Regions from separate parts of the Homo sapiens genome. Here region 1 is linked to region 2. Evidence: fine-mapped expression QTL. A gene starts in region 2. The other region holds a variant in brackets. All regions are shown on one strand. Distances are between the middles of the regions. Region 1 overlaps COL8A1 (collagen type VIII alpha 1 chain). Region 2 holds the start of CMSS1 (cms1 ribosomal small subunit homolog).

Region 1 (8,342 bases), 33 kb after region 2:
ATAGCACTCTTTACAAATTAGCAGTAAACAGAATTAATATAAATGGGGCTTATCTGTTTATAAAAACCAGCTTGAAAAGACCTCTGTTTGGAAACGCCCTAGGCTTAAAACCAGACAGCCCAGAGAAGTGCATTGTTGGCAAATGCACACTAGAGGGCAAGTGTGATACACACTTAGGTCTGTTCAATATTCTGCCTGCCCACTCCCTGCCCTCTGTAGTTCTAATGCTGGGCATACACGAACTCCATGCTCACAATGTATAAAGGGACTTAATGAAAATTTGAATCTTAAGGGACATGTCATCATAATGCTGGAGAGAGAGAGAGAGAAGTGGCAAATTTCTCACAATTTTTAATGTAAGTATCTTCTGGAAAACTTTGAAGAAACTTCTGTCTGTAAATAATTCAATTTCCATCTTCTTGAGAGTTGTTTTCTTTGCTTTTGCCTTACTTAATTCTGGATCATAGTTTTCTACTTCTTAGAAAATGTGCGTTGATTTTGCAATATCCTATTCCAGGGTAATGCCAAGAGTGTATACAGGCTACAAAAGGATTGGTTAATAAAACACCTAATAAAATATTTAAAATGAATCCCTATCACAAAATTCAAGCTTTACAATCTTTCTAAATACACTAACAAATCATTTTTTCCCTGGAAAAAATGAAGAAACAGTTGCTAGGCCCATTTTGGATTACTAAGATGAATATAATATGGCTGGTGGGCCTTACCATCAAGGAGTTTGTACTCTTAGTGGGGGTGACAGATGTGTAAACTGTTATTGAGTAGCAAAGGATATCTAGTAAAAAGTAAATTTTCCTCCTACTTCTGTTCTCCAGTATCTAAAATCCCTTATGTTTGAAGCAACAATTTTTCCTCATATTTTTCAGATAGTCTGTGGATATGCACATATCATATACATCCCTTTCAAACATAAATTGCAGTATACTATACACACTTCTATTTTTTGCTTTTTTCACTCAAAGATCAGTACTTATTCCTTGTCTAGTTATGTGCATCTAAACAAATTTCTTTAAGTTCTTCATTTATTAAAATATGACTTGGATGTTCCCTTAAGTCTTTTCTAGCTCTAACATTCAATGTCTGTAAGACAGTTACTAGAGATCTGAAAGTGTTAATCCATACCAGAAATGTGTGGTAATATCTGGTAATGTATAAGCTGGTACTTAATTCTACTTTTGGGGATGAATGAATTTAATTATGGAACCCCAGACTTGTGGTGAAGTCTTTAATAATAAGCTAGCATGTTTGGCCCTTCAGCCTTCCATCAATTCAGTGGATATGTTGGATTATACTTCATAATCTTTAAACCAGGACAATCTAATGAAATACTGGAAAACTGGAAGGAGATGAAATGCCTGGAAGAATACCAGTTGAATTATTTCCTCTCATAGGCTCAGCATATCTGTCCTGTAAACCAGCTCTTTAGGTCTGCCTTCTGCCATTTCTCTGGCTCTTTATCTAAATAAACTTTGTTCAGTTTTAACGTGAATATTTATATAAGGGCCCTGGTTAGAATTTACTGCTTTACTTATTCCTACTAATTTTTCTCCTGTCCCTGAGGATATTTTTGGTGGTCAAAGTGGTATGGGGGTTCTCCCAAATCACTCAAAAGAACATCAAATTTGGGTAACTTTATACAAACACCTGGCAAGAAAGAAGGAGCCTTGGAATTTTTGCTGGGAAGAAATTGTGATAGTGGGTTTTCATGCCTCTCTTTCTGAGAATGTGGGACACAATAATATTGTGAGTTCTCCTTAATATTTTCTTTGATTTCTATTTGTTTGACAGCTGGTGTGTGTGTGTGTGGGTGTGGGTGTGTGTGTGTGTGTGTATTTGTGTTCTTGAACATAAGCATATCTAATGTGTGTGAACATTGAATCTTTGCCAGCCAGGCTGGCTTAGTGATGGGTGTCATGTCATATGACAAAAGCACTGTCAAAGAAGTCAAAAGACTTTTATTTAAGTTTTGGCTCTGCCATTCTTCATGCCTATGACCTTGGACAAGTCCTTTATCTTCACTAAGCCTCAGTTTTCTTACCTGTAAAATAGCAATTATAATCTCTGCCCATCCCTCAGAGCTGTTCAGGGGTACAAATGATAATATGAATTCTTCATAAGCCAAAAAGGACTATTCAGATTTAAGTTATTATTAATGGAGTGTGACCAGAAAGACAAATCAAAACCAACTAAAATGTCAAAGATTTTCAAAGAAAGATACTAGCAAAGTAAATGTGAGGTTAACTGCAATAATGATAACCTAACATGAATAAAACAGTAATGGCCATTAAAATGCACTTGTTAAAAATGATTTAGAAAAAGAACAGCTGAACCAAGGCAGTCATTCATTCATGTGTCAAGAATAACCAATCCTAGATACTTTGAACAGCCCTAAATGGCTTCCTATATTTGAGCAGGGCTGCAGAGAATTTCAGATTCCTCATATGACCTGTAATGTACATAACAGAGTAATGTGATACATATATTAACAGAATAATGTGATAGATATTTTAAATGCTCATCAGCATTCTATTTGTACGTTTATCCTCATTGGCTTACTATACAGAAGAATGTTTAAATATTTAATCTGTTGGTCCTTGCCTTGAATCCAACTTTCCCTTTCACATAGGCTAACACAGCATGTCTTTGTGTATGTATGTGTGTCTCTGTTGTGTGTGGTGTGTATAAGCCTCTCTAATCAGTTCCTGGGCTGGTCCTCTGTGCCTCCTACTTGTACAAGATTTGTAGTCTCTCAAGACCCTCAGATTTGCCACCCTAAAGCAAGGGAAAGTCAGGCAGAATCCTCTTCCAGTGTTCACCAGAATTGCCTTCCTGGTTTTTCCATGCCTCTCAAAGAAAATTCTCTCTTGATTGCATTTCTCAGGGCAATTCATTCATTAGATATACCTATTGAACACCTATTGAACACTCAGAACAGGAAATGTTCTGAGTATTGGAGATACAGTGGTGAATTAGAGAGTGGAGGTATTATCTTATTGAACTCACAGTCTAGTGTGGAGAGACAGGTGATAAATGTTAAAAATACATTTTATAATTTGAGATTTGAGTGCTTTGAAAAAGCAATGCAGGTGTCTTAGTCATTAGGGCTGCTGTAGCAAAATACCATAGGTTGAGTGGTTTATAAAGAACAGCAATTTCTCAGTGTTCATGAGGCTGGGAAGTTCAAGATCAAGGTGCCAGCAGATTGGTTGTCTAGTGAAGACCCACTTTCTGGTTCATAGATGACACCATTTTGCTGTATCCTTACATGATAAAAGGGGCAAGGGAGCTCTCTGGAGTCTCTTTTATATGAGCACTAATTCTGTTCATGA[G/A]GACTTTGCACTCATGATCTAATTATCTCCCATAGGCCCCACCTCCTAATACCATCACTTTCGGAGGGGGGTGTCATATTTTAACATATGAATTTGGGGACATAAACATTCAATGTATAGCAGCAGGATAAAGGGTTCAATAATGACAGAGTGGAAGAGCTCCGATGTTTTGGAAAGAACGGTAGGGAATGACATCTGAGGAAGTAAATTTTGGATAGAGATGTGAAGGTTGAGAGATGTATCTTTCTTAAGACAACGTATGGGGAAAAAAGGAAAGAGTCCTGTTTACTACAATGTTAGTTGAAGGTACCTTTCACTAATATAGACTCATTTCAAAAGTATGTTCTTCATCCATGCCTGACCTCATTTTGAATTCTTTATTTACGATATTCTTTTTTCCTGGAAGATAATTATTTTCCTTTTATTTCTCTGTAGATTTCAGTCCTACCATATAGTTTTCTCTGGTTGTCATAACAAAGTATCTCAGACTGGGTGGCTCAATAGAAATTAATTTTCTCACAGTTCTAGAGACATTGAAGTTCAAGATCAAGATATTGGCAGAGTTGGATTCTGCTGGAGCCTCTCGCCTTGGCTTGTAGATGGCAGTCACCTCCCTGCGTCTTCACACAGTCTTTCTTCCATGTGTCTGTGTCCTAATTGCCTCTTCTTATTTACCAGCCACACTGGTCACCCTAGTGACCTCATTTTAACTTAATTTCCTCTTTAAAGGCCCTATTTTCAAATATGCTTAAATTCTGAGGTACTTGAGGTTCAACATATGCATTCTGGGGGATGCAACTCAGCCCATAACACCTTCTTTCCTCCAGACCAGTTCTATTCCTGCCTCCTCTGTGAAGCCTTCCCCACCTTCTCCATCATTGTTATTCTCCTAAAGTTTAATACAAAGTCAAATGTAATTGTAACCAAGCTTATGTTTTTTTCTTGTTGTTTTTTGTCCATTAGACTAAACATGATTGTAAGCTTTCTGAGGACAAGAATAATTTGACTTCTCAATATTTACTGATGGATCCTCATCATCAAAAGTCTTAGTGTGTTGATAGGGGCTTTCAAAAATACCTAATTCAGCTTCACTCCCCATTGAAAATTCTACCTACAGAGGTTGTTGACAGAAAGCCCTCATATTTTTGACTTGGATATTAATAATGATGGGAACATTTAAAAAGCAGCTCAGTATTTTGTACAATTTTGTTGCTTTTTAAATTATCTAAACAACTTTTAGAGAGACTTACCTTTCTTGATTCACATATGGAGGTGCACATGCAGTTTACTATTAGTGGTGGAGGAAGGGAGGGCATGTTGAGAAAATGAATCCCAAAACTTGGTCATAACATAAAAGATGGGCACATGACCTTTTATTGTTGTGCTAAGATCATTTTAAATAAGCCCACCTTAGGGTCATCTGATCAAGGATATGTACCTTTGTTGCAAAATTGATTAGTATTAAGAGATATTAATGACTCTAACTATATTGATCTATGACCCTCAGGTAAGTAACTCAGCATTATCTCAACATTGTTTTTTATTTACTGGAAAAAAGTCCCAGGTACTATGTAGTCATGAGGTGCATAATGATGCTTCAGTCAGCAAAGGACCATATTTATACTAGTGGTCCCATGAGAATATAATGGAGCTGAAAAATTCCTGTCACCTAGTGAGGTCTTAGCCATCATAATGACTGTGGTGCAATGCATTATCTTTTCTATGTTTAGATATATTTAGATACACAAATACTTACCATTGTGTTACAGTTGCCTACAGCACTCAGTACAGTAACATGCTGTATAAGTTTGTAGCTTAGGATTAATAGGCTATGCCATGTAGCCAAGGTGTGTAGCAAGTGGTACCATCTAGGTTTGTGTAAGTACACTCCATGATGTTTGTACAATGACAAAATCAGTTAATGGTGCATCTCTCAGAACATATTCCTGTTGTTAAATGACACATAACTATACTTCAAATACTTTATATCATTAATCCCATATCCATTTCTTAGGTCTTTTTTGACATTACAGTTTCTAATTGATAATATCCCCATCCTATATTTATATGATTGATTATTTTACTGAAATTCAAGACTGTATACAGTTATTCCTGTTACATTCCTAGTCAAAAATTGAAAATTGTTATTTAATTATGTGTAGGAGCTGCCATCCAATATATTAGCTAACAAAGTTCCAGCTTTGTTTTACAAGGTACAGATCCATCTAACTGTACAGTCAGTTTTCTCCATCTTGTCTTCCAAATATCAAGGCCCTCCTTTTGCATGAAATAAGGAATTCTTCTCTTACATAAGACAAGCTCTTAGACAGGCTTTCTTACTCTTTGGTTTTCTGACTAGGAATACAAGCTTAAAGTATTCATTAAGTCACAAAGCCACTGGCAAGGTAAATATGCTGAGATGGAGCCTGATATAGTTTGGCTCTGTGGCCCCACCGAAATCTCATCTCAAATTGTAATCCCCATATGTCAAGGGAGGGACCTAGAGAGAGGTGATTGGATCATGGGAGTGGATTACCCTGTGCTATTCTCATGATAGTGAGTTCTCATGAGATCTGATGGTTTAAAAGTGTTTGGCAGATCCCCCCAAACCCCGCACCTTGCGCGCACGTGCTCTCTCTCTCCTGCTACCTTGTGAAGAAAGTTCTTGCTTCTCCTTCTCCTTCCATCATGATTATAAGTTTCTTGAGGCCTCCCCAGCCATGTGGAACTGTGAGTCAATTAAACCTCCTTTCTTTATAAATTACCCAGTCTCAGGTAGTTCTTTATAGCAGTGTGAAAATGGACTAATAGCCCAAATAAATAAGCCTGTCAGATTCTGGTCAATCAATCACATGGAGGCAGTGGGCAAGACCATCCAATGAACATTTACTGGTTTTGGTCAATCTGCTCATTTACATCTACTGGGATGGCTATAAATGTAAAACAGCCTAAATTATATGCTTCACTAACAAATTCTGAATTCTGTAATTAAGAGCAGCCAATCATCCCCATGTACTAGCTATAGGCAGATAATGACCTCATGGGACCAACGAAACTTGAGAAGTCAATTAGGTTGTGCCCCCAGCGCTAGAAATGAACCACACACATAATGCCTCTGAAATGAGTGGCCAACCACCACATTCCAAAGGTTCTCCAGAGGAGATTTTACAACATTCCCTAGTAACCAATTGTAGGATTTCACATTAGATTTCCTAATATCTAATCCGAATCTCTTCTGCCGAACTGTAAGTTCATTGCCTTTTTTCCACTCTCAAAGGAGTTGGGAAACATCTGGAGAATATTTTTCTTAAAATAATAGCTCACGTATTTGAAGTTTGCAATTAATTTTTTTTTTGTTTCTCTAACTGGAATAGTGTCAGCTGCTAAACAGTTTATAAAACACTTGGGAAAACCCCTAAAAAGAAATTCTAAAGTAGAATATATATTTTTTCTTTCCTTAATATGAAAGCATCATTGCTTTCAGAGCAGAAAATACCTAAGTTTTAGTTCGGACCCAAGTAAGTCACCTATTCTGACTAGGCATTAGTTCCCTCATTTGCAGAATGAGAACATTAGCTATATGACTTTGAGGTCCCTTCTACTTCTAAAGTTTTTTGTAATTGTGAATGTGAAGAACATATCCACACTTATAAATAAATAATGTCAGGGGCCGGGTGCGGTGGCTCACGCTGGTAATCCTAGCACTTTGAGAGGCTGAGGCGGGCGGATCACCTGAGGTCAGGTGTTCGAGACCAGCCAGGCCAACATGGCAAAACCCTGTCTCTACTAAAAATACAAAAATTAGCCGGGCATGGTGGCACATGCCTGTAATCCCAGCTATTCGGGAGGCTGAGGCAGGAGAATTGCTTGAACCCAGGAGGTGGAGGTTGCAGTGAGCTGAGATGATGCCACTGCACTCCATCCTGGGCAACAGAGCGAGACTCCATCTCAAACATAAATAAATAAATAATAATAATAATTTTAGGAACTTAGGTACTCAAGCCTTTGTATGTCAGAAAGTTAGATCAATCTCATACTTGCAGTTACTTTTCAATATTGCACTCTCCCTTCTTACAGTTGGCGATGGAATAATGATGGAGAGTTTGTACACCCCCTACCCCCCTTAAATATTCCTCTGGTCAAATAAGCTATACTTGTCCAGAAACCAAAGGAAGAAATAAGAAACGTGGTTTAGGGACAATAATGATAATAATCCATGGTTTTTTTTTCTTACCACATTCAAAGGTTGAATACAAATGTGAAGCTTACTGAGAAACCTTTAAAAAGTGGCTATAAAAGATAAAAACTTCATACAATGTGTGTGCTCAAAAATTCCTGCAGTCATTCAGCAAATATTGATGTAGGTTTCCAGTCATAAGAATGACAAGTACAAAGTATGCACATTGGAAAGGGGAAATTCGTGGTTAATGAGTGTGACATAGTCATGTTTTAGGAACAACAACAATTTTGTAAGAAAAATGGAAGATCTAAAATCCAGAGGCAGCTCTACAGTAAAGTAGGGCATTGGTAGGGCTCTGCAAGAATAAGGTCCTTGCCATTCCGTGGACCTGGCGATACACAGCAAGGTGAGTTCCTTCTTAGTATGGCTCTAGAAGGACTGCAGAACACTGTTACTTACATGAACAGCTTTCTGTTCATGTGCTAGTACATGCACTAGTACAGTTTGTGTAGCCAACACAATGTAAAATAAGTGTTTTAAGGCCTTTTGCAAGGGAGAGATGTGGGGAAATTTCATCTAATGTAATCCATTAAAGTGGACATCGTAAAAATGTTTATTTAGAGCACACAACTATAATGTATTACATAAAATATAAATTTTATAGTACATTTCTTGGGGATCCAATTGTTGAAGTTTTGTTTAGCTAAGGTTATTTTGAATCATATAACCCTGAATGACTTGATATTAAAAGTTAAGCCAAAGTTAAGTTTCTATCTTACATGGGGAGAATATTAAATCATATCAATAGCACT
Region 2 (8,342 bases):
CACTTAATTTCTCAGTGTCTCAACTTCCTCATCAGTAAAATAAAGATAACAACAGTAACTACCGCTGGTGTACTTGGGAAGATTAAATTAACTAGAACATGTAAAGCAATCAAAACAGCATCTGGCAGGTAGTTAAGTGCTCAACAAATGCAAGCTGGTATTATTACTATTATTATTATTATCATTATTATTTTGAGATGGAGTTTTGTTCTTATTGCCCAGGCTGGAGTGCAGTGGCACGACCTCGGCTCACTGCAACCCCCGCCTCCTGGGTTCAAGCAATTCTCCTGCCTCAGTCTCCTGAGTAGCTGGGATTACAGGTGCGTGCCACCACGCCCAGCTAATTTTTTGTAGTTTTAGTAGAGACAGGGTTTCATCACATTGGCCAGGCTGTTCTCAAACTCCTGACCTCAGGTGATCCACCTGCCTCAGCCTCCCAAAGTGTAGGGACTACAGGCGTGAGCCACTGCGCCTGGCCGCAAGCTGGTATTATTACCTGCAGTCTCCTGGCACTGTACATAGCAGTGTCTTAACACTTCAGTTTTCTAGTTAGGTGCTTGGGAAGAGATGTCATCAAAGATTCAGAATGAGTTGGGGAGGCATATGAAAGACCCTCCTTAAAAGACATGGAGGCTCAATGTTACAGACTGCTAAGAACATGCTCTTTAAAAATAACCTATCTGTATGCCAGTTATTCCTAAATCTGTATCTCAGCCTGGATCTGGCCCTGGGGCTCCAGACTCACATACTTAGCTGCCTACTGGGTACTCGACTTGGTAATTTAATAGGTATGTCATTGAAATAAAAAGGGAAAGCAATTAGTATTCTCTTCATCTTCAGTGAGTAAATGATCAAGTAACATTTTCTTTTTTCTTTTTTTTGAGACAGAGTCTCAGTCTGTAGCACAGGCTGGAGTGCAGTGGTGCGATCTTGGCTCGTCGCAAGCTCCACCTCCTGGGTTCAAGCAATACTCCTGCCTCAGCCTCCTGAGTAGCTGGGACTACAAGTGCCTGCTACCACACCTGGCTAATTTTTGTCTTTTTAGTAGAGACAGGTTTTCTCCATGTTGGCCAGGCTGGTCTCAAACTCCTGGACTCAGGTGATCTGCCCACCTTGGCCTCCCAAAGTGCTGGGATTACAGGCCCTCAAGTGACATTTTCAACTGCAGAATCCCTTGGCTCTCTTCCTTAAGTCACGAAATCCATGCTGTGATTGACATTCTCTCAGTTTTCAGCTTCACACTGAGAAAGTACCCAGACCGGTCAACTACATTAAAATCTCAGGCATTGTGTTTGCTCATTTCAGCATTAATATTTTCACATCATTATTCTACTGAATGTATTACTTACTATAAGTCACTTCAAACAGTTGCTGAAGGTTTACAGGGAATAAGGAAATAAATCAAATATTAGATGCCATTAGATGATTCCTGGGGTCTTATGCCTAAGGCATCCTGGGCTGCACACTCAGCACTGTAACTCCCAGCTGTCTTATGTTGGGCCATGACTCCAATTGCCACCAATGGAGTGACTAGACATCCCTTAAGGACCAGGAGAGTCCCTGCAAAATTCTAATTGCATAGCCTTCCACTCACAAAAGTGTCTAGATTGGATGAGAAATTATATGTCTGCCTACATACTCTGTAGCAGGTAACACGCATACACACATATATTTATTCTGCCAACATCCACCAAACACCAATTAAGTGCCAGGTCCCATGTTGAGCTCCAGTGCAATGTAGAACTCTAGCACAAAAATGACAGGTTTTAAAGAGCCATGAAAACTTTGTTACATACCACATCTAAGAAGACATGATAACAGCCAAAAAATAGTACAGTTCCTTAGACAGACAACAAACAGATAGGCACATTAGATAGATGTTATAAACCATGTACAACCAACAAGTATTTGTAAGTGACTGAAATCTTCCACTGCCTTGCTACCATGGATGTCAAGTGGGAACAGATTATAGCAAAAATGTTTATTTTTATAGGCAGGTAGCATAATCCACAACAGGAATAAAAGCACCAATACAACTATCTTTCCTTTCTCTGATTTAACATATTATTTCTCCTTCAACTTTCAAAACAAAACATAATTCACATACTTTAGGCTGAAACAACAATTGAATACATTTGACATCCCTATCAAATAACTTAAGTAAAGACTTCAAGAAGGCAGCCAGGTAAGTAAGCCTTGTGCTCTAGGATCAAGGCTAGATCCCATCAACAAAAGAAGAATCAGGAAATCTGTGGTTCAGCTGTGATTTCTTTTGAATTAGAAACGCTGTACAGATTACAATTAGGCAAATTGCCAGTGAATAATCAAGGATATTTCAAATAAAGGCATATACTTACTTTGCTTAAGAGCAGCGAACAAAGCAAAGGCCTCTGATAAATTTAATGCCAGCAATTTTCAAAGCTTAGTCTTGGCCGGGTGCGGTGATTCACACCTGTAATCCCAGCACTTTGGGAGGCCAAGGCGAGCAGATCACTTCAGGTCAGGAGCTCAAGACCAGCCTGGCCAACATGGTGAAACCCCATCTCTACTAAAAATACAAAAATTAGCTGGGGGTGGTGGCAGGCTCCTGTAATCCCAACTACTCGGGAGGCTGAGGCAGGAGAATCGCTTGAACCCAGGAGGTGGAGGTTGCAGTGAACTGAGATCGCACCACTGTACTCCAGACTGGGGGACAAGAGTGAGACTTCGTCTCAAAAAAAAAAAAAGGGTTAGTCTTATGGCTAGAAGGAATGTAAGAAGTAGAGCAATCTTAGGCACTCCAACACACTGTCTTCATGAGAATTCTGGCAACTTAGATGAAGGAGGCTGTAGCGATTTAAAGTTTTACTAGATTCAGTGTTTAAAACTGTTGGGGGCCAGGCACGGTGGCTCACGCCTGTAATCCCAGCACTTTGGGAGGCCGAGGTGGGCAGATCACGAGGTCAAGAGATCAAGACCAGCCTGGCCAACATGGTGAAACCCCGTCTCTACTAAAAATACAAAAATTAGCTGGGTGTGGTGGCGGGCACCTGTAATCCCAGTTACTTGGGAGGCTGAGGCAGGAGAATCGCTTGAACCCAGGAGGCAGAGGTTGCAGTGAGCCGAGATCGTGCCACTGCACTCCAGCCTGGGCGACAGAGGGAGACTCCGTGTCAAAAAAAAAAAAAAAGAAAAAAAAAACTGTTGGTTGGTAAAACCCTAAAAAAGATGATCTTTAAGGGCTCTTTACAGATTATGATACAAAGGCCCAGAGAAGTCACAAAGTAGTAGCGGGAAAAGCGTGACTTTCAAAATCAATCACACTTGACTAAACTCTTCCCAGACCTCTTCTTCAATGTGTGTTCCTAAGAACACGACTTAACTTTTTTCTGTTTCTTCACCTATACAAATGAAGAGAATACTTACCTTTTCGGGATGTTATGAAAGTTAAATCAATTCATATTTATGAAGACATTTGTCACATAATAGATACTCAATACATGTTGACTGCCTTTCTTCCAACGGATGAATAACTTGAAAGTCACACAGCTAGTGAGGACTAGAACCAAGAATTGGGATCCCCTTCACCACTCAAACAGAATTCAACTATTTCTTAAATGGCCTCTGTTCATCTTCAATCATATCATAAAATAGAGCTTTTTAACACCTGAGTTGGGAGGGGTAGTTATTAAAGTAAATGTGGAACACCACAGGGCTGCAAAAGAGTCAGGAAGTTTAATCAAGGAAATGTTGTATTGGCTACCTTTCTAAAAATGACATCTGCTTAGTTTGTACCTGAAGGCTTGACCTTCCGGAAACAATGCAACAAATGAAGTTGGTTATTTTTAATGGATATTTCACAACTAGTATTTCAAGATTGTTTGCAGCAAATAGGTATCAAGTGTCTAACATGTGCAGGGCCCTGTGGATGACAGAAGTATGAATCTGACTTTGGCCCTGTCTTCTCTTGTAGAGAAAAGAGGCAGACCTTGAGGAGTGATAAAAACCAACCAACCAATAATTGCATGGTAGGTGTGATGGAACTTAAAAAGTTCAAGGCTAGCCTGACATGGGGGGTCACTTAACGCTACTCTACTTGGGGATGAAATGCCCACTGCATCAGGAGTTGGTAAACACAGCAGAGCATAGTAGAAACTATTCAAATTGTGTTAACTGAATTCTAGTATTGTTTCTGAAAGGAGCTAGCTTTGTGAACTTGTCAAGTTACTTGACATCTTTAGGTTATGTTTCTCATCTGTAAAATAAGTGAGTTCAAAGGATGATCTCTATTTAAGCCTCCTTCCAGTTCTACTATTCCAAATTCCATGATAATGATGATGACCACAAGAAATACAGTAACTTATATTTACCACACATTATATGTCAAGCACTATGCTAAAGTGCATTACTGTACTAACTTCACTTAATCTTCACAACTTTACGAAATGGACATTATTGTTATCATTATTTTACAGATGAGGAAAAGGAGGCTAAACAGTATCAGAATACTGGAGTCGTGATTTGAATGGAGGGAGTCTGAAGCAGCAACCCCTGCTTCTGACCTCAGTCTGAATTGAAAGCAGTTCATGGGTCACCCTTAACCATCATACAAAGTTGCCTCTCTTCACAAAAACTGTCTTATCCATTCTCAAGAAATAAGGAAAAGAGAAAGCTTGTGGAAAGGATCCTTCCTGGCTGGCAGACAGATCTGAGTTAATGTCACAGCTGTCTGTTTCACGTGTTAAAGAATCTCTTGCACCATTTTCCCCGAGATGCTTGCGCGCTCCCAAGGCGGTGCACACCCCTGCTGGGCAAACACCGCGATCGCCAGAAGCGACCAGGGCTGAGGCGCACGGAAGGGCTCCGGGAGAGGCCCCGTAGGAGCGCGGGCACAGAGTGGGTACCTGGGCTGCTGCCTGCTCCAGTCGGCTGGTTCTCCCACCACTCGTCTCCGAGATCGTCTGCCATTTCAGCTCAGGTCTCGACGTGGGCAGAACATCACGGGTAGGCGACCAGCTGCGGAGAATCACGTTGTCTCAAAGCCAGGCGGCCGGCGTAGCTACACGCGGAGCTCCCGCTAGACACTGTCGCCTCCGCCCCGCGGCGATGACGTCACACCTCTGCCCCGCCTCTCCGGCAGCCGCTCCCAGACTCGTCGCAGTTTCCACACAGGCGCCGACAGGCAGAAGCAGTTTGGAAACGCAACATAAATCCCCCCAAAGCTTAAAGACAAAAAGGAACATAAGACGAAAGGGATTGTCATCGTTTTTGATAATGCATTTTAAAAAATTTTGTTTACGTGTTACGTTTCCCGATAAGATTGTGTCGAAAGTGTGAGACACCATGTGAAGACGATTTTTCTCCGCTCAGTTTCAAAGAACTTGCGCAGCGGGAGAAGACCCAAACATGTGCGTGTGTTTTCGCTTGTGCGTCAGTGTTTCAGAGTTTATGTGTTTGTACAGTTTGCTCTTAGAAAACATGCGCAAGGATCCATGACCATGAATGTCGGGCCTTTGTGGTAAATGTAGTTCTGCTATTTATGCAATATGAGTAAAGAAAATGTAATTGGCCTGGAAAGGCTCGCCCACAGAAAGACGCAAGTGGCTCGAAGACCCGCAAGTTGTTTTCCTCATACTCCCTCGGTTGTGTGTCCCACCCCCTATTTGGGAAACGAAGTAATAAGGGAGTCCATTGCTTCGTAACTATAGGTAAGAGACCCGCAGTGCCTCTTGTCTCAGTCCCAACGTGATTTGGCAGGGAGGGACTAGGAAAACCCGCTGGGCGCCAAGTGCTGGGGCTAGCTGTGAAGTAATTGTGGACGGTATTTTTCAGGACATCAAACACAGACGTAAAAATTATACAAAATGTAGTAAAAGCACGCAACGTGCCTGGTACTATGCATGGAATAGTAAGATGAGTCCATTCAGATGTTAGCCTACAGTAGTGGAAATTCAATTTGTAGGAATAAAGGGCTAGACTTCTAATAGGATACATCCTCGGAAATGACAAGACAGGGAAACTTAATCTGATGAGGCTAGGATTAGCCATATGTGGAAAATTACCCCGTGTGCACCCAACTCATAGATGTTTTATAAATGCATTACTGCCTAGACTTTGTCCGCACACTCTAAATGCCCCAAAAGGGAAGATATTATGTATAAATATGGCAAATGTAAAATAATCTATAAAGATCAAAAGTAATATGGCTTTTGTGAAGAAATGTAGATGACGAGATTTTCGTGATTAATAGATTTTTGAAAAAGATAAGAAATGCCAGTGTGGAAGAGGAGTTGCTATGGCTAATAAACATGAAAAGAATTCAGTCTGATTATTAATCTGGGAAATACAAAAAAAACACCACAGCGAGACCGTTTTTCAGGCAATAAATCACAAAATTAAGAAGTATGGGCCGGGCGCGGTGGCTCAAGCCTGTAATCCCAACGCTTTGGGAGGCCGAGGTGGGTGAATCACCTGAGGTCAAGAATTCCAGACCAGCCTGGCCAAAATGGCGAAACCCATCTCTACTAAAAATACAAAAATTAGCCGGGCATGGTGGCAGGCGCCTGTAATTCCAGCTACTTGAGAGTCTGAGGTAGGCGAATTGCTTAAACCCGGGAAGTGGAGGTTGCGGTGAGCCGAGATGGTGCCATTACACTCCAGCCTGGTTGACAAAAGCGAAACTCGGTCTCAAAAAAAAAAAAAAAAAAAAAAAAAAGAAGTCTGGCAATACTAAATTATGGAGTGTCTATGCATTAATGGGAATTGATACCTGTTTTGTACCATGAACTATGAATGGTCTTACATTATATTCCACCTCGCCTCAGCCTCCCGAGTAGCTGGGACTACAGGCACATGCCACCATTCTTGGTTATTTTGTTGTTGTTTTTGTTTTTTGTAGATATGGCGTCTCATTTTGCTGCCCAGGCTGGTCTTTAACACCTGGCTTCAAGCAGTCCTCCCACTCCAGCCTGCCAAAGTGTTGGTATTAGAGGCCTAAGCCACTGTGTCCAGCCATTTTTTACATTTTTAAAGCATTGTAAGAAACAGAACAAAACAACAACGACAACAACAAAAACGTAAAGAAAAATATGCAGCAGAGACTGTAGCCCTCATATATTTACTATTTATTACTATTCCCTCATATATTTGCTCTAACTTTACAGAAAAAAGTTTACTGACCCCAGATTATATTGAATAGCCAACCTAAGTTGTAGCATCCATTTCTGTTCTGTTTGTTCTGTTATTAGTGAATTGGTTATTAGTGAATAGGCATCCTGGTTTATAAATCAGTGTATTGTAAAACCGTACTCTCCAGTATCTGATCATATCATCTAACACAGGGAAGCTCAGGCTGAAATAACTATTAGGTCTTTTTCTGCTCCCTCTTACTGTTCAGTATCTGAATGAGTATTATTAGAGTTTAAAGGAGGAAGCATTCATTTCCCAATGGGGCGAACTGGGAGGTAGCACTTGACAATGGATGTCTGTCGGCAAAAATGGATAGGGTAAATGATAGTTCCTTGGCAGAAAGATTGCAATGTTGCTTTGAATAAGTTATTAAACTTTGCTGGGCATTTCTTTGTGAGTCTGTAAAATAAAGGGGAGCAATTTCATGATTCCTGTGGTCTCTTCCAACTCCATGCCTTAATCTTGAGTATCAGACCAAGAATTCTGGATTTTTGTCGTTGTTATTAGAGGCAAAGGACATGATGGAAGTATTGTTTTAGGAAAGCTAAATTGGTATTACTGTGCAGGATGAATAATGGATTTGAGCAGAGCTTCCCACCTGGCATGGGTGGGCTGAAGACTGACCCCTGCAGTCTTTGGAGGAAGCAGTGACCTTGGGGCAGTTGCCTCAGGTTGAGGGTATCATCATCTTTTCACTCTAGTGTTGTACAGATATTACCATTTTCTATGGATGCCATGATGTGAAAGGTTGGCAAAAACTGAATTAGTAAGAGAGCGATAAAGTTTGAAGGCTGTTTCGTGAATGCTCACCACACAATGAAAAGGTCTTAATCAGTGCAGAGGTTCTTAGTCAATAAGCCCAGCCTATAAGTGTACTTCAGGAACCATCATAATGCATTCAAACTTTTGCATCATGTAGACAATAATGGTAGTAACAATATCAACAATAGCATGTTGTATGTACCTCTCTATGCCTCTTATATCTTAATTCATTTAATCATAACTCCATGAGATACTGTGCTGGGACTAGGGTGAGGCAAGCAGAGACCTAGGATACCAGATTTAAGGAGGCAGTCACTCTCAGGCTGACACTGACACCGACCTGAGAATGCTTGTCTCACTTGAGTCCTGACGCTGGTCCCTTTACTGAAGGCCACAGCTCTAGTTCAGCAGCT

Evidence for each region.
Region 1: its variant is fine-mapped to the expression of CMSS1 in nasal epithelium (TOPMed, PIP 0.91).

Annotation. Positions count from the first base shown.
Region 1 is chr3:99,781,368-99,789,709 of GRCh38, reverse strand. All of the region lies in intron 2 of COL8A1 (collagen type VIII alpha 1 chain), which reads right to left. Among named protein-coding and RNA genes, the nearest start is that of CMSS1, 32 kb to the left of the region's middle. The variant G/A (reference allele first, on the strand shown) is at 3,351.
Region 2 is chr3:99,814,585-99,822,926 of GRCh38, reverse strand. CMSS1 (cms1 ribosomal small subunit homolog) reads right to left here and starts at 5,065. Exons shown (of 10, transcript NM_032359.4): 1 at 4,884-5,065. The coding sequence starts at 4,947. HP09053 (a long non-coding RNA gene) reads left to right here. Exons shown (of 3, transcript NR_110821.1): 2 at 3,953-4,007; 3 at 4,455-6,295. LOC105374010 (a long non-coding RNA gene) reads right to left here and starts at 5,065. Exons shown (of 5, transcript NR_189163.1): 1 at 4,884-5,065. RefSeq lists enhancers at 4,799-5,108, 4,340-5,214 and a silencer at 4,630-5,384.